4 linked regions of the Homo sapiens genome follow. The protein of the gene in region 3 purifies or fractionates together with the protein of the main gene of each other region. This does not show direct contact. Each region holds a gene or a part of one and is shown on either strand. Other genes may lie near its edges. The genes, in order: ATP2B2, FCN1, TRABD and DNAJC11.

Evidence for each region.
Region 1: the proteins of TRABD (region 3) and ATP2B2 purify together in Homo sapiens (affinity purification with mass spectrometry; 3 studies listed by BioGRID and IntAct, with this or other methods). This does not show direct contact.
Region 2: the proteins of TRABD (region 3) and FCN1 purify together in Homo sapiens (affinity purification with mass spectrometry; 2 studies listed by BioGRID and IntAct, with this or other methods). This does not show direct contact.
Region 4: the proteins of TRABD (region 3) and DNAJC11 purify together in Homo sapiens (affinity purification with mass spectrometry; 3 studies listed by BioGRID and IntAct, with this or other methods). This does not show direct contact.

What each region holds. Positions count from the first base shown.
Region 1 is NC_000003.12:10,341,419-10,349,314, forward strand, and holds part of ATP2B2 (plasma membrane calcium-transporting ATPase 2), read right to left. Parts: intron 4,720-7,896; coding exon 4,613-4,719; intron 4,158-4,612; coding exon 3,966-4,157; intron 1,548-3,965; coding exon 1,334-1,547; intron 1-1,333. UniProt on the Homo sapiens protein: ATP-driven Ca(2+) ion pump involved in the maintenance of basal intracellular Ca(2+) levels in specialized cells of cerebellar circuit and vestibular and cochlear systems.
Region 2 is NC_000009.12:134,907,515-134,915,410, forward strand, and holds part of FCN1 (ficolin-1 precursor), read right to left. Parts: intron 7,296-7,896; coding exon 7,242-7,295; intron 6,907-7,241; coding exon 6,871-6,906; intron 6,100-6,870; coding exon 6,067-6,099; intron 5,630-6,066; coding exon 5,502-5,629; intron 5,102-5,501; coding exon 4,972-5,101; intron 3,754-4,971; coding exon 3,619-3,753; intron 2,532-3,618; coding exon 2,284-2,531; 3' UTR 1-2,283.
Region 3 is NC_000022.11:50,181,412-50,189,294, reverse strand, and holds the start of TRABD (traB domain-containing protein), read right to left. Parts: upstream 3,383-7,883; 5' UTR 3,319-3,382; exon of another isoform or gene 3,250-3,318; intron 1-3,249.
Region 4 is NC_000001.11:6,649,205-6,657,100, forward strand, and holds part of DNAJC11 (dnaJ homolog subfamily C member 11), read right to left. Parts: intron 4,836-7,896; coding exon 4,707-4,835; intron 3,748-4,706; coding exon 3,625-3,747; intron 2,399-3,624; coding exon 2,325-2,398; intron 1-2,324.

The sequences.
Region 1 (7,896 bases), on a different chromosome or scaffold from region 3:
TCCTGCTTTAGCCTCTCAAGTAGCTGGGATTACAGGTGCGCACCATCACGCCCGGCTAATTTTTGTATTTTTAGTAGAGATGGGGTTTCTCCATGTTGGCCATGCTGGTCTCGAATTCCTGACCTCAAGTGATCCACCCGCCTCGGCCTCCCAAAGTGCTGGGATTACAGGCATGAGCCACTGCACCTGGCCAAGTCCTGTGTCCTTTTGCACAGCTGAGTAAAGTGGTGCCAGGAGGCTTGTGGAGTTTTCTGGGTGTGAGATGTCCCAAGACTACCCAGGGTAGGTGCTGCTCAAGTGGTCAAGCCAGCAAGCCGACCAGGACCCCCGCTCTCCTCTCCTCTCCAACCCCTCCACCTCCTCTGAGTCTCTTCTAGTTCTGCATATAAGTGGCTTCCTCTAAGCTTTTTCATGATAAGTTTTACAACAGTAAAATGTGTCCTGACAACACACTACTTTCAAAATTTATAAAAGGCAACTAACTGCCTTTGAGGAATGGATCCATGCCCACCTCCATCACACTCTGGGCTTTGAGGACAAGTGAAAGGCCAGCTCCGGGAGGCTCCTGTAAGGAGAGAACTGGCCCTGATTCCATGTGGGACTGCGGGCCAGACCCTTCCCCTCTCTGGGCCTCTGTTTCCCCATCTGTGACCTGGGGATAGGCTTTGTTGGGATTGCCTCCGAAGCATCTGTGGAAACCAGGCCAGTCTTGGCCCCAGCCAGACCTGGTTCTGTGCCCAGACTCTTCCTCAGACTGGCTGTGTGCCCTTGGGCAAGTCACCTCACCTCTCTGAGCCTTGGTGCCCTCGTTTGTAATGTGGGGTGGAGGCAAATGTGCTTGCCTCACTGAGTGGAAGACCCAACCAGGCAGCCCAAGTGGAAGCATTGTGAGAGTCGGTGGTGGTGTGAGCGTGTATGCCCTGCCCCAGGAAGCCTTGCTGAGGGTCCCTTCCACGGGGCCAGGATAAGGTGCTGGAATGGGTCAGAGAAGGGGTGAGTCACTCCCCTCCCAGCCTCAGGTGCCTCTGGGGCTGCCATGCAGTGCTTCAGCACCCGGTCAGGGCCTTGCACGGTCTGTACTTGTTGCCAGGAGCTGTCACCAGTGGAGAAAGCCACTGATGGCTTTAGGGTTAGCCAGAGCTGGGACAGGGCCAGGCCCTGTTCAAGACTTGCTGGTGTGACCTTGGGCAACTTACTTGACCTCCCTGGGCCTCAATTTCCCCATTAGCAAAACAGGAGGGGGTTGTGACTCGAGAATGCTGGGTGAGAGCCATGGTGCACCCAGAAGGTGATGACCCCGCCTGGGAGAGGCGTGGGTGGGCGAGGCGCTCACCAACAAAGAGCAGGGTGAAGATGAGGGCAAGCTGGTAGACAGCATGGCCCAGGATGTTCTTCATCATGGTCCTGGAGATGAGCGGCTTGTTGCGGCCGTACGGCTTCCTCAGCAGCAGGGTCTCCGTGGGCGGCTCAGTGGCCAGTGCCAGCGAGGCAAACGTGTCCATGATGAGGTTCACCCAGAGCATCTGCACGGCCTTCAGAGGGGAGTCCTGGGGACGGGCAGGAGAGGGCTGTCACCTGTGCGCCCACCTGCTGCTGTGAAGTGCTGGGCGGGCTCATGGTGTAGTGTCCGCAGGCTCCTGCTGGAGGCTGGAGTCCGACCTGCCCCTTGGCTCCCCAGCAGGCATGGAGTTGTTCTCTGATGCCTTCTCTGGAGAACAGTGCAGACCTGCCCACCTCAGCCACATCTTCCCTGCCAGGAGATAAGTGAGTCCCCCCAGGCCCAATGGCCACCAGCTCCCTGCCTTCTGGTAAATTCAGCTGCATCTCACCATCTTCCCCTCTCCCCTCCAGCCCCCGAGGAGGGGGTCTCTCCTGGCTGAGGCCAAGACCATTCCCACCGCCTCCGGCATGGGCTCCTACCTCCTCCCCCCACTGCCTCCTCCCCCTCGGGCTTTCTATCCTACAAACAGTGCCCGTCCCCCACCCCCCCAATGTCTCCTCCCCTCTTATCCCGCCTTACCTTAAAAAATTATTGTGCGTATCTATGACTCAAAAATTAATACATTTCAAGGTAGGAAATATGGCAAATGAGGAATAGCAAAAGCAACTAAAACTGTCAAGGACCTCACCACTTTTAGGTCACCACTGTCCAGGTTCTGGGAGGGACCCTTTCAGACCTGTCTCTTTGGCTGAGAGGAGCTGGTTCTTCTGTCCCCATCCTTCCTCACACCCCCACGTATCTTGTCCACAGCAGCCAGACTTTGGCCCCTCCACGTTCCCAGAATGCCCTCCGCCCACGTCACCAGCACCTTCTGTGCCACGAGTTGCAGGACCTCTTCTCGGCCAGATGTCACTGACCTCGCCCCTGCACTCCCACTTGTAATCCTGACCCCACTCTCCTGGTCGTCGTCCTCCCTTCCTTTTAAATCTGTGTTCCTGCCTCAGCCCCATTCTCCTCCTCGTCCTGTGGCTTTAGTTACATCCGTCTAGTGGCCTGTGGAACACCTCCTCCAGGAAGCCCCCAGACCCTGTAAGCTCAACAGCCCAAACCCGATGCTCTTCCCACCTCTGTTCTCTCCCAAAGCCCCATATACCTGCATCCCTTCCACTCATCACCTCCCAGGTTTCATCACAGCCCCTGCTCCTGGCTTTCTCTCTCACCTCCTCCTTGCCTCAGCCTCGCTCCCCTTGCCCCCGTCCTCCCCACCCCGGGCTTTCTCTAATTCCATATACCTCAGGGTCAAGTGTGCCCGTCTTCTTATCAATGCTGCATGGCCTCGCCACCAACTCAATCAAAGACCTCAGGCAAACTGATAGTGGTCTCAGAATCTCAGTTTCCCTATCTGGCATCAAGACCTTCTGGTTTCCAAGTTGCTGGGGCCGCAGGAGTGTTCCTCAAGCTGCCACTAGAGGGAGTGTCTCATCCACAGGCCAGGAAAGAGGGCCCTTCTGAGCAAAAGGAAGCCCCCAGCCACCCTCCCAAGGCTCCGATTCTCAGGGCTGGGGTAGCCGGAGCTGCCACCTATATTCCCCCAGCGCAGGAAGCAACAGAGGGGAGCAGTGTTCCAGCGCCACACAGCTCTTGGGGCAGTGCTGCACTCTGGGCCTCTGGGGGCTCCTGTGGGCATGGGCTTGTCTGCCCAGGTGGCTACTGGGAGTGTTGGGCCTTGGGGATCCCCTGGGGCTAAGGGAGACCCATTCTTGCCTCCCTGGCCAGGCTGGTCAGCCCCTGTGGGGAGTATCAGGAGACTGCAAGAACAATGGCAGGTCCCTGGCCAGTCCATCCTCTGAGCCTCAGTTTCTGCCTCTGTAAAATGAGGATCATCACAGTTCCCACCTCATGGAGCTGCATGAAGAAGCAGTCAGTCTGCAGACATCTGGGGCCTGCCTGCCAGGCTCAGTGCATAGGGCTGCTCCAGACCCAGTCGTGGTATCTGGCCAGACTCCTCTGTGACCTTCCCAGTGAGCAAGATCCCCGACTCCCTCCAGTTATCCCCACCTAGCACCTCCTAAGGCACTCCACACTCCAGTCCAGAGCCAGGGCCCCAGGGCCCCCACTGGCTCTTTGTCCTCACCTGGATGCCTGATCCCCCTTGGGCCCTGGCCTGCCCCTCCCTGCCTCCCTCTGCCCTCGTGGTGGCCAAGGGCCCTGCCTTCTCTTGAGGATTCCCTCTCCTGCCTCCTGCAGTGAGGGCCAGGCTGTGAGCCTGACAGCTCCCATTTGCTGGGTGACCTTGAACAAGTCACGCCACCTCTCTGAGCCTCATGTCCTCGACTCCCCTGGGGCCAGTGCCTGCACCTGAGCTCTGTGATGCAGTTCCTGGCCCCCAGCAGGTGCTCCATCGATGGGTGCCTCATCCCCGGCTGTTCTGACAGGGACAACCTGGAGTACCCTAAGGCCCCCGAGCCTCTGTGGGGGGTCTCCGCCCTCCCCCAGGCTTTGGTGTGGTCTCCTGCGGACCCACCTGCGTGATGCAGGCGCCTGTGAAGGCCACAATCACGGCCACCACGTTGACGGTGAGCTGGAACTGCAAGAATTTGGAGATGCTGTCATAGACGTTGCGGCCCCACATCACTGCCTTGACGATGCTGCTGAAATTGTCGTCTGTCAGGATGATGTCTGAGGCCTCCTTGGCCACGTCAGTGCCTGCGATGCCCTGTGGGGACAGGGACAGGAGGCTGGGTGGGGTGGCCGGGGGAGGTGACCACTTCTAGCATCACCATCCTCACTCCCTCCACTTCCTCAGTCCTACACAACTCCCAGTGGGCCCAGCACAGCCAGACCACACAGGGACACCCCACTCTTCACGCTCCTCACAGACCCAGCTCCCTTCACCCTCAGGAAGCCTCACCCTGGCCCCCTCTCCCCCTCTGTTATCTTCCTCCTCAGCCTGCAAGTGCCCCCCTTCACACAGCTCCCCCAGAGCAAGAAGCATCCTATGCCTTTCCAGGAAGACCTCGGGGTCAGGCTGAGTCTCGAGAAGGGTGGGCACCCACGGCAGATGGCGGGTGGGCCAAGTGTGAACTGGGGCTCCTGAGTAGCCAGCCCAAGGTTGTGTAGTCCAATCTCCCCAGCCCCCACCACCCCAGGCCCTCTGTGGGCCGTTCCTACCATGGCGAAGCCCACGTCGGCCTTCTTGAGTGCAGGCCCGTCGTTGGTCCCGTCCCCCGTCACGGCCACCACCTGCCGCTGCTCAGTGTGTGTGCTGTCGATGATGCCTGTTGGGGCAGGAGTGTGCTCAGGCCCTGGGCCACTCAGGTGGGAGGCAGCCTGGGCCAGCCCTGGTCCTCGGGAGGGGCCTGGCTGGGCATGGCTTCCTCTCTGGTCCCTGTCCAGCCGCCCCCTCCATCCAGGCTCTTCCCAGCTCCAGGCTGGCCTATAGCTGCCAGCAGGTTACAGTGGGCTCCTTACTGGGCTGGTGCCGACTTGGGGCCCCCTGTGGCCCGGGCCCTGCTCACCTCTCCAGCCCCCTCTTTGCTGTCTGCAACCTGTGGCCACATTGGCATCCATCCTAACCAGAAACACTGTATCCTCTAACTGTGCTCAGGGCCCCCTCTGCCTCAGCAGGGCTCCCAGGGTTTCAGCAGGACCTCACCATCTGTTCCTCCCGACACCACTAGCCAGCACTTTCTCCCTGGGGAGTCCAGGCTTGCTGAGGAGGCCTTGGCTTTGTCATTTGCCAGTGACCTCTGCCCCACCATTCTGGCCCTGACCTCCCTCCAGACATTCATCTTCAATAAAACATTCAACGAATAACAGAATGAACAAATGACATGTGGCCCCAGTCACTGAGCTGGGGCCAGTGGAAAAGGGTGGGTGAAGGATGTCATCGGTGGGGACCTGTGGAGTTTGTGGGACTCCTCATTCATGGGGCTTGCGAGCAGGGATGTCCATGGGCACGACAGGAATTTGGGTATCAGCATCCATGGGTCTCTCATTCTGCACATTGAATGTATCACCAAGGCCTGCCAATTCTGGCTCCAAAATCCCACTGAAACCCTTCCTTTTCTCTGTCTCCACCCTCTGCCACCAGCATCACTTTGTTTCCTCTCACTGACTCTGGACTCCCCCTCCAACTTGCTTCCCCACAGCAACCTCAGGATCTCTCTAACACCCATGTCTGAACCAGTTCCGTCCCCCAGCCATCCCCGGAATGTCGTTTTCCTGCTTCCCCCCTTGGTCTCAGGATAACATCCATGTTCTTAGCTCCACTTATGAAGTCCTCTGTGACCAGGCCTCACTCACATCCTGACCTCTTCTCTTCTCTCATCCCCTGGCCACCCCCAATCTGTGCTTACGGTCCCACAGAGCTAGCTCTCACTGGCCCTGTGTCTGGGCAGGCTGTTCCCTTGGCTGGAGGTACTCCTGTCACCCACCTGTACTGTATTTTTGGCTCAGAGGCTGCTTTTCCCAGGAAGCCTTTCTGACCCTCTGAGGATCCCTGCCTGCCCTTAATCAGATCCATGTAACTCTATGTGCTGCTCCATCCTTGCGCATCTCTCTGCTCTGTGCCTAGCAGACGGCAGCAGCCTGTGGAATGAGGCGCTGAGTTCCATAACCTGGGGCACTGTGCCCCCAACCTGCTCCCTTGCAGCTCTACCCTCTTTCAGGCCCAGCTGCAGTGCCGTGTGTTCTGGGAATCGTTCTGGGCTGCTCCCACCCAGCTGTCGGTGACCCCTCAGTTCCACCGTCCTGGACTCAGCCTCCCCAAGCTTGTCCCCTTGGGACATTAGGCCTGAGTTTCCATAGTTCCCTCAGTCAGCCTGGGGGCTCCTCCAAGGCAGGGACGGGTCAAATTTCTGCCCTGTGGCTCCCAGGTGGTGCGGACCGTTGCGTAGCTCAAGCTGTGCGGAAAGCTGGGAGGAAACCTCTCCCTAGACGCCTCCCTGCCTCCAGTCCTGGGGTGGCCTGACTGTGTGCAGTCACCAGGGGCCTCCCTGTGGCTGCTTCCTATGGTCACATTTCTGTTCTGTCCCCGCAGACCTCTCAGCAACTATTTCCACCATGGACCACACCTTCCTCCTCCACAGGCCTCCTTCCTTGTCTTCCCGGCACCACTCCCCACTGACCATCCTCCTGCCCCTCTAGCCTCCTCCCCTTGGCCTCCTCTGTAGGTTCTCAGCCTGCACCATCACTCGGGCAGCTCTTGGCTTCTGCAGCTCCTCTCTCCCCACCCACATGTGCCACCCAGGACTCTGTCTCAGGCCTGCTCTCCCTCCTCGCTCGATGTCCAATGCTCTTCTCCAACAGGTATAGACTGATGGGATCCCAGACCCTCCTGCTCCTCATCCCTCCATGACATGCAAACCACCACCCAGCCCAGACCCCTCCACTACCCAAACTTTCTCAGACCCGCACCTGGCAGCTCCACTTGAGGTGTCACCACTGTGGGCAGGTGACAACTCTTAAGCAGGACAATCCTACAGGTCCCTCCACTGCCAGGCCGTGCTCTGCACTGCAGGGTAAGTTTTCTAAAATGATGCTTCTACCCTCTAAACCCTCCCATGTTCCTGTGCCTGGTGACACGGTGCAGGCCATGACGGGGTGCTCGTGGTGGGCATTGGCGGCCCTGCAGGATCTGCTGCCCTCCCACCTGCTCCAGTCTCCTGTAGCTTCCCTCTCCCACCCCGAGGTCCTGGCCCAGATCCTTGAAGGCATCTGGGGATCTTCTGCCTCTAGCCCTTTGCAGAGCAGTTCCCTGCCTTGCCTCAAGCACAGGCCCTACCAACCCTGGAGCCCATCCCACCTTCCATGGCCTGTGACCTAAAGCCTCCCTAGTCCAAGTTAGAGGCAGTGTTGGGTCCAGAGCACCCCATGCCAGCAGTGCAGCCTTTTGCTCTATGCAGGGACCACTTATTCAATGCCTGCTGCGTGCAGCCTGGCCCATGAATTCCACGTGGGCAGGACCAGGCCTGTCCTGAGCAGGGCTGGCACCTGGCAGGACCTCAGTAAACAGTTATGGAGAGAATGAGTGAATGAATAAGAATAAGGATGGGCTGGGCGCCTTCTGCTCCCTTGTGGTTCTGGGGTTCTGGGTTTCTCTCCCCAGGCCAGATCTGCTTCCATTAATGTCCTTGGGCAGCACCTTTGAAAGAGGAATCCAAGATGTTCTAGGGCTGATCTCCAGTGGAGCCCTGCTCCCATAGCCATTTTACAAATGAGGAAACTGAGTCCCAGAGTGGGATTTGCCCAAGGCCACAGAGCAGGTCAGTGGCAAAGCCAGGACCACGTGACTCTAAAAATACCCAGTTGGCTGGGCACAGTGGCTCCTACCTGTAATCCCAGCACTTTGGGATGCCAAGGCAGGAGGACTGCTTGAGGCCAGGAGTTTGCAACCAGCCTGGGCAATATAGTGAGACCCTGTCTCTATAAAGAATTAAAAAAAATTATCCAGG
Region 2 (7,896 bases), on a different chromosome or scaffold from region 3:
TCAAGAAACAGAGCATTGCCAGAACCCCAGAGGCTTGTCCCTGTCCCTTCCCAGTCACCATGTGGTCCCACCCTCAAATACAATCACTTTCTTATTTTTCCTGTATACATTTACCACCTAAATATGCATCCAAAATACCATTGGCTACTTTTGCTTTTGAAAAACTTTATCTACAATGGAATCCATAGCACATACCCTCTTGAACAGGCTCCTTTTGCTGCCATGTTTGTGAGACTCATGCTCCTTGTGTGTAGGTGTCACTGTGTAATTGTCATGGCTGTATGGCGTTCTACCCAATGGCTATCCTTGCATTTTTTAACATCCATTCTCTTCCTGATGGGTATGTCGGCTGATTCCAGTTTGGTGCTATGGTGAGTATTTGGCTGTAAAGATTCCTGGCCATGCTCCCTGGTACACATGACGGCCATATCCAGGCCCTGATGTGGGACTGGCAGGTTAGAGGACTGTGTGTCTTCTTCTCCAACAGTTGATGCCAAGCCATTTTCCAGGTTGGTTCCATCAATTCGCATTGTTACTAGCAGTGTATGCAAATCTCCCTCCCACAGTCACCTTTGACACTGGTGCTATCCATCTTTCTAACTTCTGAGGCTCAGATGAGGGTGCCGCAGTGACTCCTTTGGGTGCTGATTTGCATTTCTCTGGTAAGTGAAAAGTGGAGCACTTTTTGATAAATACCTTGCTCCCCTGCATGTCATCTTCTGTGAAGTGTCTGTTCACATCTCATACCTTTTTTTATTTAACTGAGCTGCTCTAATTCTTTTATTATTTGCAGGAATTCTTTCAGGTATAAGCCTGTGATTTATTTATTTTTGTATAAGGCATGGTAGGCAGAATAATTCCCTGCCCCCACCACTGCCCCGCCAAAAATGTCCTGCCCTAATACACACAAAGTCAGAGCCTGCAAATACCTTCCATGGCAAAAGAGACTTTGCTGATGTGGTTAGGGATAGAGACCTGGACATGGGAGAGGATCCCAGATCATCCAGGTAGGCCTAGTCTAATCCCATGAGTCTCAGGAGTGGAGACCCTGTCCCATGGGGCTTGGGGGGAGAGGGGACAACGGATGAAGGGTCAGAGAGATGTGGTGCTGCTGGCTTTGGGGTTGGGGGAAGGAGTCCGGGCCAATGAATGCCAGTGACCCCTGGGGCTGGAAAAGGCAAGGAAGCAGGTTCTCCCCTAGAACCCTGGAAGGAGCCACCACTGCTGAGTCCTGCCTGCTGGCCCAGTAAGGCCCAGGGACTCCAGATCTACTGAGCCAGGAGGTGGCGAGTTCTTGTTGTTTCAAGCCACTCCATTTGTGGTGACTGGTTGCGGCAATAGTAGAAAACTAAAGATTTGTGTGCCGCACGTTGATTCTGCCCCTCTGGCCTTCCTTTGGTTCCCTTAGTGTCCTTCGGTAAGTGGGAGCTCTTGATTTGAATGGAGTCACACTTGCCACATTCCCTTTGATGCTTCTTAGGTCGTGGTTGAGAAATCTCCCCTGGCCTGGGAGCTGGAGAAGCCCCTTCTCCATCATCTCCTAGAAGCCTTGTGCAGCTTTTCCCACTGAGGTCCGCGGTCCCCTCTAGCTGAGGTCTGTGTGTGGGAGGAAGGCCTCTTCGGAATCTTCTCTGTGCAGGTGGCTGACCAGGCGCTCACTTAGTGAGTGCTAAGTGTTTATCTCTTCCCAGCAGCCAGCCAGCCCAAAGCATGAACTCTGCCGTGGTGGGAAGCAGAAAAGTTCCTACTAAACTTTCCCCCTTTTTAGTAAGTGTTTTCTGGACCCCAAAGTGACCTTTTTCAAGAAGTGTGAAGTGTTGTGAGTGAGGCATGGGGGGATGGGGGAGGCTTGGGGGTGGAGGTGAGGATCGCCCTGTGTCAATTACTGGAGGTGGAAAATCCTCGCAAAAGTCACTCAACCTCCCTGAACATCGGTAGTGCCATCTGCTAAATAAGGGTCCTGACTCTTCCCGACTTACCAAATTCCAGGGAAAGACCTGCCGTGCAACAGACACAGGAAAGTGATCAAAACCACTGGTGTTCAAGAAACACACATTGAAACTGGTAAAACTTTTCTGTCCCAAAGTAAACATATTTAGAAACATAATTCTCCCTCTGGTGAGGTTGTGGGCATGTGGCGGCTTGACTGAGCTGGGGGCAAAGGGGCAGCTGTGGGCGTCATGGGAGTGTGTCTGGCTGGGGAAATGGGGTGACTTCCACGACGCAGCGCTTGTGGGTGTGGCCTCCCCACTAGCAGGTGCATGTGGAGGGGTCCTGGCCCGTCTAGGCGGGCCGCACCTTCATCTCTGACACCTTGTAGCTATATTTGTACCCCTTCGCCGCACTCCAGTTGATACCATTGGCATAGCTCTCATGGGGTCCCATGAGGTAGAGACCATTGAGGTTTGAAGCATGACAGTCGGCGTACCACCAGGCTCCTTGGAACTTCTCAGCACAATTCGAAGAACTCACATCATTGTCTTGGTCTTTGGTGGAGAAGAAGTTGTTGTTGTGGCCCGTTAGAGAATTACCTGCTCACAGAAAATGTGGGGTTTGCAGATGCTGGAAAAAGCCCTGCCACTGTGAGACCCTCACCACATCCTGCCTCTGAGCAGAGCCAACCTCACTTTAGCGACGCATGAGCCGAGCTACAGGTGCACAAATGACCCACCCAGGCCTTGGAGGAAGGGGAAGCAGGAGGCAACCTCTGGCAACCTGGTCTGGAAATCTCTCTCCACAACCTGAGGCCCCTGCTCCAGCAACCACCTGTTTCCTCCAGGGCTCCCGCAAACTGTCAGGCCTCCTGCTCTCTCCTGGAATGACCTCCCTCCTCCAGCCTGCGCCGCTCCTTCCGGTCTCTCCCCACGTCCCCTGGTGGCCCTTGGTAGGTTCAGGACAGCCCTCACCTGGGGGCTTCTCCTCTATCTCAAGCCCTGAGCCGGAAGCTCATCCCTGGCTCCTATAGCTGAGAAATGTCACCCCCTGAGCCTCGGTTTTACCACCTGCAAAATGGGGGTGACCTTCCCTGCCCTGCTGCCTTCCTTGGAGGTCATGCGTGAGATCGTGCCTGTGAAAGGACTGCACAGACTCCAAGGCTGTCATTTCCAAGGCTCCCCTGGGACTGCCTTGCTCCATGGAGCAGTTAGTTACACAGACTTCCAGCTGCAGCAATTCTCAGTGCCTTTCACGAACGATGTGCACTGGGAATTCCCTAAGCAGACGCCCTGTAGGAAATGCCTCCCCAGATCGTGTAGCCAGAGACTCCTTTTGGTAAAGAATGTCCCACAAGGCTGGTGTTCCATGGAGCACAGTTTGGGAAACAGCTCCAAGGCACCCATGAGAAAAGGACGACGTCTTCCAGGTTTCAGCAGTGATGCTGGTGGGTCGTCTCAGCCCTGCCCAGGCAGCTCACTGTGCGGCAGACATAGCCTTAGGAATACCAGCCGCTATGTCCTGTGAGCCCCACGCTGTACAGAGACACAAATGCTAGTGTCTGCTTCATAGATGGAGAAATGGGATTCAGAGAGAGGAGGGCCCAAGGTCACCAGGGGAGACAGAGCCAGGTTCTCTCTGCTTTCCAAGCCCCACTCAGGCCACCAGCCCCAAGCAGACACTCACCCGCACTGCCCCCGACAAAGGCTCCCAGTACCAGCTTGTACTTCTCTGCCTCGTCAGCCACCTTGAATGATTTGTACTTAGCAAACTGGTGGTTGCCCTCAAAGTCCACCAGGTCTACACGGAGCTCGCTGCTTCCTGTTGGAAAAAGATTTTAAGGCCCCAGCCTTTAAGATCTTTCTGTCACCAGGCATGAGGGCTGGGGATGGGTAATTTTTTTTTTTTTTTTTTTGAGACAGAGTTCCGCTCTTGTTGCCCAGGCTGGAGTGCAATGGCACCATCTCAGCTCACTGCAACCTCCGCCTCCTGGGTTCAAGCAATTCTCCTGCCTCAGCCTCCCCAGTAGCTGGGATTACAGGTGTGTGCCACCACACACAGCTACTTTTTTTTTTTTTTGTATTTTTAGTAGAGATGGGGTTTCACCATGTTGGTCAGGATGGTCTCGATCTCTTCACCTCATGATCCACCAGCCTCAGCCTCCCAAAATGCTGGGATTACAGGTGTGAGCCACGGTGCCCGGCTGGGGATGGATATATTCTTAAGGGATGTCTGAACGTGGCATCCAGGAAAAAAATCAACCGGAAATGTCAGAAAATCCCTTGTTGCTATCAGGCCCTCAGGGATGGCTTTCTGTTTCTAAACACCTTTCCCGTTATTTCAGAGAACTGAACATGCCCCACTGGAGTTCACTGGGTGGAAGGGAGCATTCTTTCATTTTGAAAGTGTACCTTCTCCTTCTAAGGGTTGGTGAGCCACTAACACAGCAGTGGGCGAAGCTCTAATTGTAGTTTCTTTTGCAGGAATTTGAGGCACCTGAGTGGATTCCTTCAATCATGCCACAGGGCAGTGGGCAGGGATAATGGACCAGCAATTATACAGACTGCCTCAGGACCAGCTGTGAAACTCATCCCCTGCCCCAGAGGGTTGGGGGGAGGCCCTCTCACTCAGGTGAGTGCGGCTGTGGGGGGCCTGCTGAGGCGTGGGCTGGAGGAGGCGAGCGTGGGCTCTCCATGGGACTAAGATGCCAGCTTCAGAGGCAGATCAACAGCTGGAGATGGGGGAAGGCTACCCCAAGCCCCAGTGGTCTCTCTCCTGCTTCCCACTCTCAGGATCTAAGATGCCAGTAGGACCAAGACCTGAAGAGGCCTTCAGCCCAGGGCTCTAACCGTTTCCCTTCCCGATGTTGCCAGAGCCTGCGGCAGGGGACGCAGCCCTTAGAGGTCCCAGTGCCACCTGAGTGTGCTCAGGGCCCAATCCCCTGTGGGCCAAGAGGTGCTTATGTTGCAGATGGCCCAGGCCTAAGGGGCAGGAGCACCTCAGGGCCCCCCAACCCCTGAGCCACGGCAGTGGCCCTACCCTGGGCAGTCAGGGCGTGGATGTTGTCATTCCCCAGCCAGAACTCCCCCAGCTGACTGCCGAAGCCCTGCTTGTATGCGGCCCAGTCCCGATAGAAGTCCACAGAGCCATCCATCCTCCGCTGGAAAACCTGTGAAGAAGCCAGGATACAGAGTTAGGCGGGGCAGGCCGAGGTCCCACAGCACCGGGGACCCGCCCTCCAGAGGAGCAGCATTTGTAGTTGGCAGAGCATCACAGGCCGGTGCCACACGCACGCCCATCTGGTCTCCTCACAGACTCCACAGGATGAAAGAGGAAATGCGGTCTCAGAGAAGAGAGGCAACAAGCCCCAAGCCACACAGCAGGAGAGCACCGGTCCCCTCCCAGCCTCCCCGATGGCCTGGACTTTTACCCACGGGTCACTTCCCCCATCATCTATGATTGTCCCCATCCAGGGGAATAGAGAATTCCAGAGTGTGTTCTACAACCAGGTGTGCAGCCTGGCCTCCGGGACTCCCAGGCTGACCGCCTCTGCCCAGCCCCACACTCACGGTCCAGCCCCCTCCGTCCGTGTCCATGTCACAGAGCACAGTCAGGGGCCGGCAGTCGGGCAGGTAGATGGTGTGCCAGCCGCTCAGGAAATACCCCCGGTCTAGCAGGTCCTTGCAGTTGCGTGGGCCTGGGAAGGGAACCCGGGGAATGGCTGCAGGACGGGGGCCCTGGGCAGGACAGGGGCAGTGGGAGGGAGGCCCAGGAGGGAGGAGGAGGGCCACAGGCTTCTGTGCGGACCGAGCAGGACTCCGAGGCCTGGACAGGGACACGGCCCCCAGGGCCACGCAGCTGTGATGCCCACACCCAGTCTGCCGACCCTCCCACCTCCCAGTGTCTGCCCCACCTTTGCCTCCTGGGCACCCGGCCTTCTAGGGTAGATAATAGTAGAGCCCAGGTTGTCATGGAAGGGATTCAGGTGATAGCTGCCCATTACTCGAGTGATTGAGGGGGGGATGATAGGTGCAGACAGGGTTCTGTCCTTAGATTCCGTAGCGTGAACGTGTGCAGCTGGCCCCAGGGGTGGGGGCAAGGCTTGGGTACCGAGGTCAGGGTGTGATCAGTCACCTGTCGCACACGACTGAGACTGCCCAGCGTCTCCTGTGTGGGGAGAGGAGACACTTGTCATAAGCTTGAAATCAGAGCCTTTGTCCTGGTCAGCCCCAGTGGCTCCCTGAGCACAGAATAGAGAATGGGCAAAGGCAGCTCCTCTGATGTCTCCAGGACACGTGGCACAGGCCTAGGGAAGGATGGCCAGACTCGACTTCCCCAGAGGCACCAGCCACATGGTTGTCCATAGGCCCCTGCTGTGCAGCTTGAGCTTGGTGGGCTGTGGCAGGCGCTGCGGGTCCTGCTGGACGAACTGGACCCCTAGTGGGGCCTTCGCCACTGATAACAGCGGAATAACTCTTCAAGCCTGGCAGGGTCACTCCAAGCCTGCCCTGCCTCCGCCCTGGCCTCTGTTTCTTGGGACTCAGGTATCGGCGGACCCTCAGCCCCCGGCTCCGGTTTTCATTTGTGTTTGTGGGTGGAGCGTGGTACAGTGTATTAGAGTCTTGCACATTTGGCTTTTTTAAACTTTTACAATTTTTGCATAAATGAGCATAAGTAAGACAGAAATTGAAATATTGAAGTGTCACCATCTATGCACTGATGTGGTCCTGCTGGCCACTGGGAGTGACTGCTGTAGACACCAGGGTTTGAGCCCTCGTGGATTCTGACAACAAAGCCCGCTGGACTCCTTCCACCCCTCCCTGCCCACAGCCTGGATTGACAGGGACGTGGGCGGTGGGCAGGCGGACTGAGGCCTCTGAGACCCCTCCCCTGGACAAAGCCTGCAGAGACAACTGCCTGGGCCCACGGGTGGCTCACCTTTCTCTCCACGCATCCCCTTCTCTCCTCGGTCTCCTGGAGGAAGAGGCAGGATAATGAGCTTTTGACCCCAGATGTGTGGGCCACGGAAAGGCTGGTCCAGAGTGGGCTCCCGGCCTGGACACTGCATCTCCCCAGCCCTGCAGGCTCACTAAGGCATCACAACGCCCAGGTCTCAATGGTGGGGAGGGGCCCCGAGGCCTGGAATATCCCAGGGTCCCTGTCCGCCTGCCACTGTCTTTCTCTCTCTGTTGCCGTGTCTCTCTGTGTCTGTGTCTGTGTCTCTGTCTCTGTCTCTCCCTCCCTCATTTCATTACAGACAGCTCCAAGGTCCCTGCTCAAGGCCTCCTCGCTGTCTGTCCCCTGGTTACCTTTGGGCCCCACTGGTCCTGCCTTTCCAGGGGCTCCAGGGAGACCGCGTTCTCCTGAAAATTCCAAAGACATATCACTGAGAAAAATGCAACCTAAACAATTCTCCCTGGAAATCTTTGCCCCAAGTGGTTAAGTCCTGACCCTCCCCCACTCTGCCTTGAACCCCTTCTGGTTCCAGGAGCTCTCAGAATTGCTAGCCATGGATTTAGCCTGGGGGTGACTGCAGATGGAGGTGAGGGATTGAGGGAGGGGCCTGCACCCCACCTTGGGCTCAAGGCAAGGTGCACCTTGCTCCTGTTTGTGCCTTGGGAGCAACCTGGGTTTCACACTCTGTTGACCATAAGCCTGGACCCAAGTCACCCACACAGAGCTCTACTGCCTAGCAAGGGACCAGGTTCTGGAACAAAGAATGCGTCCTCAGAGAGCCTCATCCTACCACGTCCCCACACGGAGAGGGTGGGCGCCACGTGCAGCCGCTGCTGCCAGGGAGGATCCGGTTCCACCGTGCGCCTGAGCTCCTGGGGTGTCACACAGCGCTCCACGTGGTTCTGGCCAGAAAGGTGACCCTCCCGTCCCCGATGCCAGCCAAGAGGCAGCCCCCAGCCCGCTCGCTGACCCCAGTGGCTGGGGAGAGTGTATGGGGGCTGGTTCTTG
Region 3 (7,883 bases):
CAGGAGCCGCCGTTTAAGGCGGGAACCTGCCTCCAGGGCCAGCATCCCACCTGCCCCACACAGGAGGCCCTCTCTGGGCTGCAAGCACAAGCCACATTCAGATGCTGCTTTAGCGGTCAGCCTCGGCCTCGAGCTTCTCTGCCGCAGCACAGTCTGTCCCGAAGGCAGAGAACGGGGTGGAGACCCACAGGGCAAGAAAAGACTTAGCAGCCCGATTTCAGGAGACCCTAGACACTGCCTCTGAAGACACTTGTTCTCCAAGCACTGTCCCTCATCTGTAAAAAGGGATATCTGGCTTTGGAAACCATGATCCTCTGTGCAGACGAAGCCTCTGAGAATTCCCAACAGCCCCAGGAGGACATCTGTTGTGCGCAAAAGCCCATCCGTTAGGGCTCTGCCTGAGGTGTGCGGCCCTAGGACACAAAATCAGAGCGGCATCTACAGTCCTTTGGCGTCAGAGACGGCTGTCTGCATCCGAAATGTCCCGCAGGGCTTCTGTCCCAGGACCTGACATCCAGTGGGAGCCTCAGACAGCGCATCCCACCTGCCTGCTCAGGTCCCACTGCTACAGACTGAACTGTGTCCCCCAAAACCCACAGGTTAGAGCCCTAACTCCCACTATGAAGGTATTAGAAGGCAGGGCCTCCAGGAGGTGATCAGGTTCGGATGAGGTCATGAGTGCATAGCCCCCATGACGGGGTTAGTACTCCTGGAAGAGACGCCACGCAGCTCTTGCTCCCCCGGGTAAGGACGCCGCGGGGGCCCGTCTACAAGCCAGGAGGCTGCATGGCAACCAGGGACCAGCACCTTTGATCTGGGATGTCCGGCCCCTAGAACTCTGAGAAAATAAATTTCTGTTAAGTTTTTTCCCAGCACCAGTGAGGCATGGTGGGAGGAGCCTACTCGCTCACAGCCCCAGCTACTCAGGAGAGGCTGAGGTAGGAGAATTGTCTGAGGTCTGGAGTTTAAGACCAGTCTGGGCAACTTAGCGAGACCTCATTTTTTTTTTATTTGAGACGGAGTGTCACTCTGTCGCCCAGGCTGGAGTGCGGTGGCGTGATCTTGGCTCACTGCAACCTCCCCCACCCTGAGGTCCAAGCGATTCTCCTGCCTCAGCCTCCCGAGTAGCTGGGATTACAGGCGTGCGCCACCACCCCCAGCTAATTTTTGTATTTTTAGTAGAGATGGGGTTTCACCATCTTGGCCAGGCTGGTGTTGAACTCCTGACCTTGTGATCCACCTGCCTCGGCCTCCCAAAGTGCTGGGGTTACAGGTGTGAGCCACTGCGCCAGGCCAAGACCTCATTTTTGTTTTTGAGACAGAGTCACACTCTGTTGCCCACGCTGGAGTGCAGTGGCATGATCTCGGCTCACTGCAAGCTCTGCCTCCCGGGTTCACGCCATTCTCCTGCCTCAGCCTCCCGAGTAGCTGGGACTACAGGCGCCTGCCACTACACCCAGCTAATTTTTTGTATTTTTTAGTAGAGACGGGGTTTCACCGTGTTAGCCAGGAAGGTCTCCATCTCCTGACCTCGTGATCTGCCCGCCTCGGCCTCCCAAAGTGCTGGGATTACAGGCGTGAACCACCACACCCAGCCCAGCCTGCTGTTTTTTAAAGTTTCCTGGTCTGTGATGCTTTGTTACAGCAGCTAGAGCTAAGACACCCATCTTATCCCCTTCACCCCACTAGAAACTGCCTCCCAGACTGCAGCCTAGCTTCCTAGTGCAGACCAAAAACTGGCTAGCACCAAATGCAGTTACCAGAAAAACCCCCATCTCTCAACCAACCCACTAGACCGGCTCAGAAAGCCCAGGTTCCAAACTGGTCAGACCTGGGGGTTGCAGAAATGACAAACTTGGAGGGACCAGGGTGTGGCCCAGAGCTTTGACCTCCCCTGCTTCCTGTTTCTGATGCCTGGCACCTTTGGCCACAGGAAACCCCTCCCGGCTTTGGCGGGACCGCTTCACGCAGGTGTGGCAGAGCTGGGAGACGGGAAACACACCTGAGCCAGAGCCCGAGGCCTCCTTGCCAGCACACCTGGCAGCCCCCAACCTCCCAGGACCTGGTCACAGTCAATGCAGAGCCCCCACACTGACCACCATGCAGGGGGCCCCACAGGCTCCTGCCACCCACCCACCCTGCCAGGCCCCCTCCTCGGACCCCACAGCATCAGGGCCTCCGGCGAGGCTGGCCAGCATCCCCACCAGTCACACTGCAAGGGCGGCGGCAGCAAGCGGGGAGCAGAGACACACAGCGCAGTGAGCCTGGCGGCCTGCACGGCCTCTTCAGGGACCTGAAAGCTAGGAGGCTTCCATCTGGAGGCTACCGAGGCTGCGGGAGTCCCCGCAGGGAGCTTAGCACCTCCACAAGTTCCTGGTTGTTTCTGGGACGCTAGTGCCCAGACAGCTCCCACTCCATCTTTCTTGTAAGAGTTTTGACAAAGACACACGGCAGCTTCATGATAGCTCAGTTAAAAAGACCTTTTAAGTTTGGGCTGCGCACAGCGGGGGACGATCTGGCGTCCACTTCGCCCATATGGGAACCCCGCTCTGCTCCAATTGAAGGGCAAAGGCACCTACAGAAGAGCGAAGCCCCAGGTTTCAGCGGGGCCGGAGGGGACAACGGGGGTCCGGGGCCTCCCGCTCGGCCTCCCCCAGCACCCCCAGAGACCCGCAGGCCTGGGCCGCCTTCCTCCACTCTCACCTCGGCCGGCTCCACCGCAGGCGGCAGGCGGGGGTGGCTGGGGCCCTCCCGACCCGCGAGGACCCTGGGACTCGAGGTCCGACCCGCGCCTTCCCGCGAGGCCGCCGCTGACCCTCCCCGCCCCAGCCCTGGGGGGCTCCGCTCCTCGGCAGCGCCGCTCCCGGCAGCGGTGGCAGGGGACGCGCGGGGCCTGCTCCCGCCCCAAACCTGACCCGGGCCTGACCCCCACGACCTGCTCCCCCGGCTCCAAAACCTGACCCGGGCCTGGCCCCCCCAACGACCTGCCACCCCGGCCCCCAAACCTGACCCGGGCCCGGCCCCCAACGACCCTGGTCTACCAGCCCCAAACCCTGAATCTGACCCTGGCCTGACCCCCACGACCTGCTCCCCCGGCCCCAAAACCTGAACCTGATCCGGGCCTGACCCCCACGACCTGCTACCCCGGCCCCAAAACCTGACCCGGGCCTGACCCCCCCCGCCCCCGGCCCCCACCCCCCGACTCGGGCTCGCTCCCCCCGCCCCCCACAGTCACCCCGCGGCCCTGACCCGGGCCCGCCCCCCGCTCGGTGCTGGGCCCCGTCCTCACGCACGCGCCGTCCGCGCCGCGCGGCGTACCGAGGCGAGGCAGCGGCGCTCCTCAGCCGGCCTCCATGCGGCGCGGGCCCTCAACGGACGGGGCGGGCTGGGGCCGCGGGGCGGGGCGGGGCGGACGGGCCGAGGGCGCCGGCGGCCGCGTGGCATGCCGGGAAGTGTAGTCCCACGCGCCTCCTGCTTGGCCCCGGCCCGCAACTTCGGACTACACTTCCCAGGGGGTAGCGCGCGGGGCCCCCGCCCCCCCCCCCCCCCCCGGCGCTCCCGGGTCCTAAGGAACATCGGCGCGCACTCAGGAGGGAGGGTTCGAGTCCCGCCGCGGTCACGGCCTTGCGAGGCGCGCCCACGTTCTCTGGTCGCAGCTCCCAAGCTGTGAAATGGGGACAATGCTCGCACGGCGTCCACAGGATGGTTTTCAGTCGAATGATATTGAAATGTAACTGTTCTGTGAGCCGTCAGTCCCGCACGAAAGGGACAGCCGATAGTGGGACGCGAGGAGCCGAGAACACGGGATCAGGGAACGCGCTGCCATGGCCTCGGCCTGGCCCCCTTCCCTCTGGGGATCGGCCTAGTCCGTCCTCCGGGGGTCGGCCCAGAGCGGTCCCCGACCCGGGACTCATGCCTCAGCGGGACCTCGGCCTTGCCGCAGGTTGGGGCACCCCGGGAAGGTCGGGCCCCAGGGGCCCCGCGGCCAGCCTAGCGGACGGAGAACCGGGACCAGGTGGGAGTCTTAGGGCGGGCCGACCCCCGGCCTCACGGACCCGGACGCTCAGTCACTTCCGATCGTCCGGAGGCCTCCAGGGGGACCCGGCTGGCCGCAGCCACGCCGACGCTAGACTCTCGCTGTGCGTGTTCGGCCCCGAGGGCAGGGGGAGACGGCCAGGCCCCACCCGCCGCGCCCGTCCTGCCCGGGCGCCCGGCCCCCTCGCTGTACCCAGCCTCTACCGGGGCGGCCGGGACCCGGCGGCCAAGTTGCTGCGCGCTGCGGGCACCGGCGCGGACGGGGGCCCGGGCGCTTCGCCGCCGCATGCAGACGACTCGCTGCCCGCAAGCTGCTGCGCCGTCCGCCTGCCCCGCTCTCCTGCAATGGTCCGGCCGCGCATCCCGGGCCCACGACTTCCTTCCTCCTCCACGACCCCGGGTTCTTGGCTGACCTGGCGCTGGCGCTGGGCTTAGTGCAGGCGTGGGCCTGGCAATGGTTTGCCTGCGGGCTGCATGCGCGGACCCCACAGCCAGCTCCCCGAAGCTCTGCGCCCACCTCTACGGCCCTGCCCCAGCCAAAGGATCAGGTTCTTGGAGCGGGGCCTGCCCTGGGGCCAGGACTCCAGTCACCGGGGGAGGGCTGCTGTGTCTTCCTGCCAGGCACTGATGAGTTAGTTGGGGAAAGGGGCCAGGTGGGGCCAGCTGGGGAACCATTTAGAAGAGGGAGGAGGGCGCACCTCTCTACTCGAGTGCCCTAGGACTAGCTCCTCTCTGGAGCCACGGGGAGGACCTCAGTGAGGGCTGCCCCACGCAGGAACCTTCAGCGAGCCTGGAAGGCTGACCCAGCAGGCCTGGGGTTGGGGGAGTCCAACGCAGCGCCCAGGCTTGGTCTGGGTCTGCCTGAGGCCGTCCACCAGGACTCCGTGCTGGGGAGCCTGCTTCCTTCCAGGCTCCAGGAAGGGAGGCCCCGGCCCCAGCCCCAGGTTCTGAGGAGCTGCCCCGGCTCGGGTGGCCTGCAGGGGTCCCCTCAGGTCCCTGGTCCTGAGTCTGCAGGTGGTCCTCCCGGGGTGGGGCGGATGGGTGAAAATGCCTGTCCACACGGCAGCAGGCTGGGCTGGCTGCCCACTGAGCATTCTTACACAAGAGGCCCCGCCCCCTCCTACAGCTTCCTGGTCCCCAAATGGCCAGGCCTGGCCTTAGAGAGGCCTCTGTCCTCCTTGGTGAAGGACACTCACTTTGGGCCCTAGGGCCTCTGGTTCACATCCTCTCCATTGATTCTCATTGTTCGCTGCCTTTGTGGTCATTCTGCCTTTCCGACCATCTCGGCCACATCCTCACAGGAGGGCAGCGGGTGGCAGTCGCCCCGGCTCCACCTCACCCATTTCTCAGTGCTGGGCTGGTGTGGAGGGAAGATCCCTGGCCTGGGGGCTGGAGGCCTGGGTTCTCAGTCTTGGCCATCTGGGATGGGTGCAAGGTCCTCCTGGAGCCCCTCCTTCTCCATGAGAGGGACGGTTCTATCCACCTGCCAGGCCTGCTTATGCTCAGGGAGGGGGAGGGGCAGGAGGGGGCACTATTTCAAACCAACGCTGGCCCCCGGGCTGCAGAACGACCCTCTGACTCACCTGGGCAAGGTGGCCAGTTGGGGAGGGGAGAGTGTCCGAGATCCCAGCCCCCGGTGGGCAGCAGACAGTGGAGAAGCAGAACTGCCCTCCGATCCGGCTGGGGTCCCCTGCAGGGCTGCACTAGGCTGTGAGGGGCGAGAAGCAGAAAAGGGGGAGATTGAGTCCTCAGGGAGCGTGCTGGGGAAACTGAGGCAGGACCTCAGCCGCAGGCCCTGGGCCACCACCCACATCTCAGGCTGGGCTTGTCTTCTAAAGTTCTGCTCCCAAGCCTGCTTTTCTCTGGGCAGGCTCTGTCCCTTCTGCCGTGGGGGGCAGGCGGGGTTGCCTTGGGAAGAGGGTCAGGTGGAGGTGGAGGACGTGCACCTGGGGTGCCAGAGCTTTTGAGGCCCTGACGCCGGGGGGCTGGCCATGTGGATGCCCTGTTCCTGGAGCAGCCAGAGGAGGGTTTCTGGAGGTGCCCTGGGGGGAGTGAGGAGGAGTCCTAGGGAGGGTGGGGGCTCTCAGGAACAGAAACAAACTGTGTGAAGCCATTTGTGCTGGGAGGGACCGTCTTGGTCCCCGGCTGGCTTTGTCCTCAAGGGGTGGACCTTGAGGAAGGGCCAAGTCCCATTCGGAGCAGAGTGACAGATCCCACAGAAGCAGGCGTTGGGGCAAGGGGAGGGAGGGAGCCCTATGGGGGAAGGCGGTTGGGGCCGGTTCAGCCCTGACCCAGTGCCAAGGGTGAGCGCCACCCTTTCAGGCCTCTGCCCGCCTGCCTCTAGGAACGTGGCACAGCTGGCAAGGACACAGCCAGAGGAACAGGTCTGGGGATAAGGTGGTGATGTTACCTGGGAGAGGTGGGAGCCAGCGTCTCACTGTAGGACGGACACCAGCTCCCCAGCACGGGCCGCGCAGAGGGAGGGCCAGCTCCAGCACAGGGCAGGGTGCTCACTTGAGGCATGAACCTCTTTCCAGACAGGAGTTGGTTTCATACCTCCTGCCAGGCTGAGGCGCACAGGCGGGGGATGGGCAGTGTGGCTGCTGCCCATGGCCCTGGTCACATTGAAGTCTCCAGGTGGCTCCACCTGAGGCCTCCTGTGTCCCCCGGCTCAGCTCAAGCCCCACCTCGGCCTAGACGTTTTCTGGGCAGCGACAGCTCCTCTCACAAGCTGGGAGGCAGGGCCTGCGGGACTCAGCACCACGCAGACCGGCTGCCCCCAAGGACTACTGGACGTCTCCCTACCTGAGCCGAGCCATGCGGGATGCCGGGTGGCTGCTGGGGCAGGGAGGACAGGTGCAGGTGGGCGGGGTGCATGTGTGAGGGTGAGGAGGGTCCCCAGCCCCAGCTGGCGAGCAGCAAGGACGCCCATGGCAAACGCTACCTCTGGAGGCCGCCATCCCTCGGGTCTCCTCAGCTGCCATGTCCTGCCCACCCTCACCACTGAGCTGGTCTGTGGGTGCAGCACCAAGGTGATGCTGTCAAGGCCCAGGGCTCAGCCCTCCCTGCACAACCAGGCTGGCCTGGGCCGGGATCTGTGACACCGGGTCCCTCTCCTGGACGTGGGAATGCTGGGCACATGGGCATGCAGGCTGGGGAGGTGTCCTGACTTAGGTGAGCGTGAAGAACTGCTACTTTCTTTTTTTTTTTTTTGAGACGGAGTCTCGCTGTCGCCCATGCTGCTGGAGTAGAGTGGTGTGATCTCGGCTCACTGCAACCTCCGCCTTCTGGGTTCCAGCGATTCTCCTGCCTCAGCCTCCTGAGTAGCTGGGATTACAGGTGCGCGCCACCACGCCCAGCTAATTTTTGTATTTTTAGTAGAGACGGTGTCACCATGTTGGCCAGGCTGGTCTCAAACTCCTGACTTCATGATCTGCCCACCTTGGCCTCCCAAAGTGCTGGGATTACAGGTGTGAGCCACCGCGCCCGGCCGAACTGTGCCTTTTATTTTCTGCTTTGTTGCTTTGACCTCTGAGGCCTTGCTGGCCCTGGTGAGACTGCCTCTCCTAGGGCCCACCGATTTGTCAGCAAACAACTTCCTGTGCAAGCTCCTGAGTCCAGGGCCCACACCCCCTCCAGGCCTCCTCTGTGGGCTCTCACAGCCTAGGCCCTGTCCCCCTGCTCTTGTCACCCTGGGCTATGTACCCGACAGCCAGGGACAGCCCCTGCCCAGCACCCACCAGGGTGTCCACTCTGGAGTCCCGAGCCTGTGGCCCCACCCTGCCCATCCTTTGGTGGAACCACAGTGAAGGCTCTGCCCATGCTTCCCCCCACTGCCTGTGTCTGCG
Region 4 (7,896 bases), on a different chromosome or scaffold from region 3:
AGTCGCCCAGGCTGGAGTGCAGTGGCGCGATCTCGGCTCACTGCAAGCTCCGCCTCCTGGGTTCACGCCATTCTCCTGCCTCAGCCTCCCGAGTAGCTGGGACTAAAGGCGCCCGCCACCGCTCCCGGCTAATTCTTTGCATTTTTAGTAGAGACAGAGTTTCACCGTGTTAGCCAGGATGGTCTCGATCTCCTGATCTCGTGATCCACCCGCCTCGGCCTCCTAAAGTGCTGGGATTAGAGGCATGAGCCACCGTGCTCAGCCAGGAAGCACTGCTTTGGTGCCTAAGCGGCCTCCGCCTGCCCCACAGGCCACGTCCTCCTGTTTCGCAGGCTCTCTCCCAACTTCTCCTGCTCTCCCTACAACAGGCTGACCTGCAAGCCTGCCTGTGTTCTCTGCCCCATGCCCCACAGACAAACGACCAGACTAGTGGGCAGGGATTAGGTCAACCCCTGCAGAGCGTGGCAGGCACACAGATACATGTCTCATTGGAAGTGTAATAACTAACTTTTTTTTTTTTTTTGAGACAGTCTTGCTCTGCTGCTTAGGCTGGAGTACAGTGGTGTGATCTTGGATCATTGCAACCTCCGCCTCCTGGGTTCAAGAGATCCTCCCACCTCAGCCTCCCAAGTAGCTGGGACTACAGGCAAGCGCCACCATGCCTGGTTAATTTTTATATTTTTAGTAGAGGGGGTTTCGCCATGTTGGCCAGGCTGGTCTCGAACTCCTGTACATGTTTGTACATGTTTGTACAGCCTACAATACATGTTTGATAAGAAAGTTATTCATGCCACTGTGCCTGGGCACAGTGGCTCACACCTGTAATGCCAGCACTTTGGGAGGCCAAGGTGGGAGGATCACCTGAGGTCAGGAGTTAAGAGACCAGCCTGGCCAACAAGGAGAAACCCCAACTCTACAAAAATTAGTCAGGCATGGTGGTGCACACCTGTAGTCCCAGCTACTCAGGAGGGTCACCTGAGCCTGGGAGGTTGAGGGTGCAGTGAGCCAAGATTGCATCACTATTCTCCAGCCGGGGTGACAAAGTGAGACCTGTCTCAAAACAAAAAACATATACTCCAGGCTTGCTGAAGTGGCTCATGCTTCTAATCTCAGTGCTTTGGGAGGCCAAGGTGGGAGGACTGCTTGAATCCAGGAGCTTGAGACCAGCCTAGGCAACATAGAGATAACTTATCCCTAAAAAAAACTAAACAATGAGCCAGGCATGTTGGCACACGCCTGTAGTCCTAGTTTTTCGGGAGGCTGAGGGAGGAGGACTGCTTGACCCCAGGAGTTCAAGGCTGCAGTGGACTATGATCGGACTATTGCACTCTAGCCTAGGCAACAGAACAAAACCTCGTCTCTAACAAAAATAAAGTAAAATAAAATAGGCCAGGCGTGGTGGCTCACGCCTGTAATCTCACCACTTTGGGAGGCCGAGGCAGGTGGATCACCTGAGGTCAGGAGTTCGAGACCAGCCTGACCAACATGGTGAAACCCCATCTCTATTAAAAATACAAAAATAGCTGGGTGTGGTGGCACACGCCTGTAGTCCCAGCTACTCGGAAGGTTGAGACAGGAGAATAGCTTGAACCCAGGAGGCAGAGGCTGCAGTGAGCCGAGATCACACCACCGCACTCCAGGCTGGGCAAGACAGAGCAAGACCCTGTCTCCAAAATAAATAAATAAATAAAATAAACTCCATGTGCTCCATTCTAGGACTCCTTCAGCTATATCTTCCTCTGGAAGAAAGAGGTATTATTTACCCTCCACCAATTCTTTTATCTGAGCTCACACAGACATCACTGCACCCACCATATAGGAAATGAAGACACTGCTGTCGTTCTAGAAGGGACAGGGATATACAGTTCTAGGAGTGTGACATGGCAGCAGCAGAGACGACAGGAAGCAGAGGCTGGCTGGGGACTACATCTCTGGCATATGTCAATCAACCCGATGATGAGGCAGTCTGTCATTCTCTGGGACAATGGAACGATCCATAAGTCTGTAAGTGTTTCGGTCCACTGACCAACTCTCCCTGAAGGCACTCTTTCTCCGTGGCCTTGTGGCATAGGTAAGGGAGGTGCGAGACCTGGATGGTGCAGCCTGGCCAGGGCTGGGACAAGGGTCCGGCCCCCTCAATCCTGCCTCTTCCCACCTGCACACTGCCTGGGCTTCACGCCAGTGCTATACCTGCCCTTGATGTACGCAGTGACCTTGTAGGACAGACAAGATAGTGCCAACCACTGTGATAAAAAGAACACACAGTTCTAGTCTCCTAAGCCAACAAAGACCACCAAAGAGGAGCTGCTGTCTCTCATATTTACCATCTTGGTGTGAGATTACGGAACAGCTTGAGACCGAACAAAGGCCCCTGTAGGTCTCCAGCTCCAAATTCCAACTGTTTGAAAAGGAAAAAGAGAAGGCATTAATGGTGTTTTATCTCATAGCAGCAACCCAGGCTCAGGTATGTACCTCTAGGTATAATTCCTTCATTCAATTCACTGGTCTTGCCAGGGCTCTAAAAGAAGGGGGTGGAAGATTGTTAATGTCTCATCTTAACCTTTGCCAAATGGAGCTGTCTGCTGCCACAGATCCAAAGGAGACCCAGGCTTCAAAGGCACATGTTTCATTGGTGTCCCTCCAAAGAAAAAACTGCTCCCCTCTGTTCCTTGCCTCCCAGGCTGAGGTCAGGAGACCAGCTGGCTCCCCCTACCCCTCCCGGCGCAGCCCCCCGCCACCTGCAGAGCACCGACTGCGGTCCGGTGTGCCCCCCACCCCCGCATGCACTGCCGACTCCTTTTCATTTTCATCCTGCGCCAAATGTCTCCCAGGTCACTGGGGCGGTCCTCAGGAGCCTGATGTTAAAGCCCAGCCGCGGTTCCACACCCGCACAGCCTTGGAAGTCACAGCTGAGCCTGGCTGCCGTGTTTACTAGTCTGGGTGACTTTCAAGCAACTCTTCAATGTTAATTTGATGCAGCTCAATTTGCTCGGCAGAACTGGCTGTTAAATGGCCACCAATCAGTGAACCATCACGCGGAAGAGAGCACCTGCCTTCTGAATTGTGCAGGAAAAAGAGCCCACAGGCTTTTTGCTCAAAGGGAACAAACACACGGAGTTTCAGAGGCTGGATTTCTAGAAGTTGGCATCTCATAGGAAACCTTGTTTTTCTATGCCAATTTTAAACTGTGAGGAAGACTGACAGGACTTCTCAGATATGAGACCTATTTATTTATTTATTTTTGAGACGGAATTTTGCTCTTGTCCCCCAGACTGGAGTGCAACGGCGCGATCTTGACTCGCTGCAACCTCTGCCTCCTGGGTTCATGTGATTCTCGTGATTCTCCTGCCTCAGCCTCCCAAGTAGCTGGGATTACAGGCAGGTGCCACCATGCCCAGCTAAGTTTTGTATTTTTAGTAGAGACGGGGTTTCACCATGTTGGCCAGGCTCATGAGACCTATTTTTCTTTTAGGACCAGTCAACTTATGGAAGCTTGACACTTGGTACCGTTCTTACACAACAACGGGGCCCCCAGGGTGAGTTTGAGGGTGAGCTTTGAGAGTGTAAATGTTCAGAAATAAGGCTTTGCACAGACAACACAACTCAGCCAATAGACATTCTTACCTCTCCCCATCCCTTTGCCGAAGTTACTCGTCTGAGCGCAAAGTTAATGGAACCTCCTCCATTTCCATTCTGGGTTGAGAGGCTTCCAGAGAGGATGGCTGTGTCTGTCGCTGTCAAGGGTGCCTAAAAATGGTATTTGCTGGTAATGAATGAATCAAAACAACAGGAAGTGCCAATGGCAGCAGCCTAAAGAACGCACTGTGAGCCCAAGGCCAAAGGTGCAGACGATTCCTCTGTTCAGAAGCACACATGGATGCAGAACTGCCGCAACAGCTTCACTTTTCTTCCGCTTTGTTATTTGGTCTGCATGTGACCACGAGGGTAATATGCTTTGCAAAAGCTTTAATGGGCACATTTCACAACACCAGGGGAAACATGGGGCTGCATGTCCCAATGGTATCAGATAGCACAGTGACTTCACTGTGTGCCTTCCCTCTGTGGTTTGCCATCAGGGTTCCAGGGGGACTGAAGACCTTCCCATGGCTGTATTCTGTATCAACTGACTCAGGGAGCTCCAAGAGGGGGCAAATTTCCCCAAGTTAGGACTCCACGTTGTTGGCTGATGCAATGGAGAATAAATTAATGAGCTGAGGAGACAAAGACCTACTATAAACGCTCAGGAGAATGACCTGACCTCGTCACATCCAAATAGTGGGCAGAATGGTGACATTTTCGCGTGCCCAGGGCTCAGGATGAGAGCTGCTATAGCCTTGCGGCACCTAGCAGAATTTGCCTTAAAACTAAAACTGGTTGTTAGAATGATCCATGGAGGTCTGCTTTCTCTCCCAGAACCCCATGACCTTGGGCCTCTACTTCTCCCAGACCATTAACACCCTCTGCTGGAAAGGCCCAAGACCTTGGGAGCCAAGTGCCCCAGCCCACACTCCTGCTGGCTCACATGCCAGCACAGCGGTAACACACGGCTGGGAATGAAGCGCTTTCTTTTTTAAGTGGCTAATTGCATCCTTTCATAAATAAAGATGAGAAAAACCCTGGGCAGACTCTCATTCCAGCTGCTTGGTGTGCTGTGCCTCATTAACTCGAGCCCTTGCTGTACTCGGAGAGGTGGTTGTGTGCTTTACCTCAATGGACTGGGATATGTGCATTTTATTAATTTCAATCTGCGGAAAGCTACTGCCGGACACATCTTCATACTCCTCATCATAGCGATCAAAAAGGTCGGTGGCATCTACTCCAACGCTGATCGTTCCCTGGGGCAGAAAAACAAGCCGTCAGCAGAACGGGTGGTATTTGTGGAATGAAAGACAATGCTACACTTCAACAGCCAGCTCGCTTTAATTGAACAAGTCATTTGACTTCAGGGTTCACTGGGTTTAGGTAGGACACTCCACCAGGAAGCCCACAAAGCATGAATGTCACAGTCCGAACCAAACTGCAGAGCACCACAGACGTCCAGAGCTAGAAAACATCATTTGACCAGGAGAGCCGGTCCGCATGTCTGCAGAGCAATGACACGCCAAAGACAAAAGTGTTAGTCAAAGGAGTAAGAGCTAGACAGTTTGATTTTCAGAGACCAAACAGGACCCAAGAATGCACAAAACCACCTAGAAATGAGCTACATGGATTAAACATTTTTTGGTAAACAACCTTATACCACAAAACTACCCTAAAACTCTTTAAATAAAAATACCTTCAAAGATAAAGCAGCACAAATTATGAACAAATGGGAGACTTTAAAATTAATCCACCTTCTCAAATTAATGAGAATTAAGTTTGAGAAACAGAACACTGTATTTGCTCAAGGAATTCTAAGCTAAAATTTTGCTGATAAAAATGCTTGTTACTCAGAAAATCAATGTTTATTATTCTTTGATAGTCACAACTTTAAAAACGGACATTATCTTAATCCAGTATATAAAACCATGGCCACACACATTTTTTTAACTAAACTTTTTGCAGCCCATTGAAACAATGTTTTTTTGCTAGCTTTTCTTTTTTTTTTTTTTTTGAGATGGAGTCTCGCTCTGTCACCAGGCAACATTAGCCATTAGTCCAGTGCAGTGCAGTGGCACGATCTTGGCTCACTGCAACCTCCGCCTCCTGGGTTCAAGCGATTCTCCTGCCTTAGTCTCCCGAGTAGCTGGGACTACAGGCGCACGCCACCATGCCCAGTTAATTTTTGTATTTTTAGTAGAGACAGGGTTTCACCATGTTGACCAGGATGGTCTCGATCTCTTGACCTCATGATCCACTCGCCTCGGCCTCCCAAAGTGCTGAGATTACAGGTGTGAGCCACCGCGCCCAGCTGGTGCTAGCTTTCTATCAGATGCTTCAATCTGAAAATGCATTAACCCTAATAATTACTTGATTTCTGTTGAGGGTGAAACACCTGACATTATGAATGCTACTATAAACTCAATCAAAAAGTTCCACATTAAAGGTAAACGTGTTTGTTTTTGCGGTGATATTCAAATACCAACTTGGAGGCAGTATAGTGTTATGGTAAAAAATTTTCTTATTAAATCAAGAAACCCATGGACTAGAAACATCCTTAGAATTAGTTGTAGTGATACGCATAATGCATAATTGTGTCAAAACAAGCTGTGGTATTCTACCCATGGAAAATGAAGTTGTAGTTGCCAAAATTTACAAATTTTTTATATTCACAGAGTAACAGCATGAACACATCTCTGTCATGATGATGATTCTGAATAATCAACAAAACTGCATGGCAGTATATGAACAATCTGTGGCCAGGTGTGGTGGCTAATACCCGTAATCCCAACACTTTGGGAGGCTGAGGGAGTGGGATCACCTGAGGTCAGGAGTTCGAGACCAGCCTGGCCAACGTGGTAGAAACCCTGTTGCTACTAAAAATACAAAAATTAGCCAGGTACACGTCCCAGCTACTCTAGAGGCTGAGGCAGGAGAACTGCTTGAACCTGAAAGGTGGAGGTTTCAGTGAGCCAAGATTGCGCCACTGCACTCCAGCATGGGTGACAGAGCAAGACTCTGTCTCAAAAACAAGAACAGGCCGGGTGTGGTGGCTCATGCCTGTAATCCCAGCACTTTGGGAGGCCGAGGCAGGCGGCTCACGAAGTCAGGAGTTTGAGACCAACATGACCAACATGGTGAAACCCCATCTCTACTAAAAATACAAAAATTAGCCGGGCGTGGTGGTGCGCACCTATAATCCCAGCTCCTCAGGAGGCTGAGGCAGGAGAATTGCTTCAACTTGTGAGGCAGAGGTTGCAGTGAGCCAAGATTGTGCCACTGCACTCCAGCCTGGGCAACAGAACAAGACTCCGTCTAAAAAAAAAAAAAAAAAAAAAATTACAATCACTGAAAATAAAGCTTGTAATGAAAAATAATCTGAAGCTGATCTTTTTAGGGGGAAAAAAACCATACAAAATAAATAAGAGTTTATGAGATATAATGAGATACAATTTTGAAATTCCATAACGGCATTTTGGAGTATCTTTATTTTGTGTAGGAATCTTGGTGGAGCTGTCATGTTTAATTAGGTAAATTTATATTCTGTTCAAGAATGAAATGGAATTGAAAAGGTCTACAGTTTTATAGCATCTAAATTTGATAAAACATTCAAAAGATCATAAATAAAGATGATTTAGAAAAATGTGTCAAAGAAAACTGTTGTGAATAAAGTTAAAAAGACAATACCTGTCAAAATACTTGGGCCAAGATATTTTTATGTTCTAATATGAAGAAATTTAGAATTGAGAGAATATTTTCTAAATTAAAAATATGATATACAGAGATGAATCAATTAAATGTGTCAAAAATTTCAGCTGAGTGCTGTGGCTCACTCCTGCAATCCCAGTACTTTGGGAGGCTGAGGTGGAGGGATTGCTTGAGCCCAGGAGTTCGAGACCAGCCTAGGCAACATGTTGAGACTCTGTCTCCACAAAAAAAACTAAAACCAAAAAAAAAAAAAAAAAGTTTAGCTGGGAGTGGTGGTATCCGCCTGTGGTCCCAGTCACCTAGGAGACTGGGAGGATTCCACTGGGAGGTGGGAGGATTCCTTGAGCCCAGGAGGCCAAGGCTGCAGTGAGCTGTGACTGTATCACTGCACTCTAGCCTGGGTGATAGTATGAGACCCTATCTCAAAGTAAAATATAACTTGCTAAATATAAATGCAACTTTCATAAAGATGGTAGGCAATGTTATAAAAGAAAAAGACACAGGAAATACACTCTTCAAAAAATAGTGTGACACACTGTGGAAGTCAGATCAAAGGCCTCCTAAGGAACCATGCCTGCGGGTACTCACACCCTTGTACAGAGCCCTCTC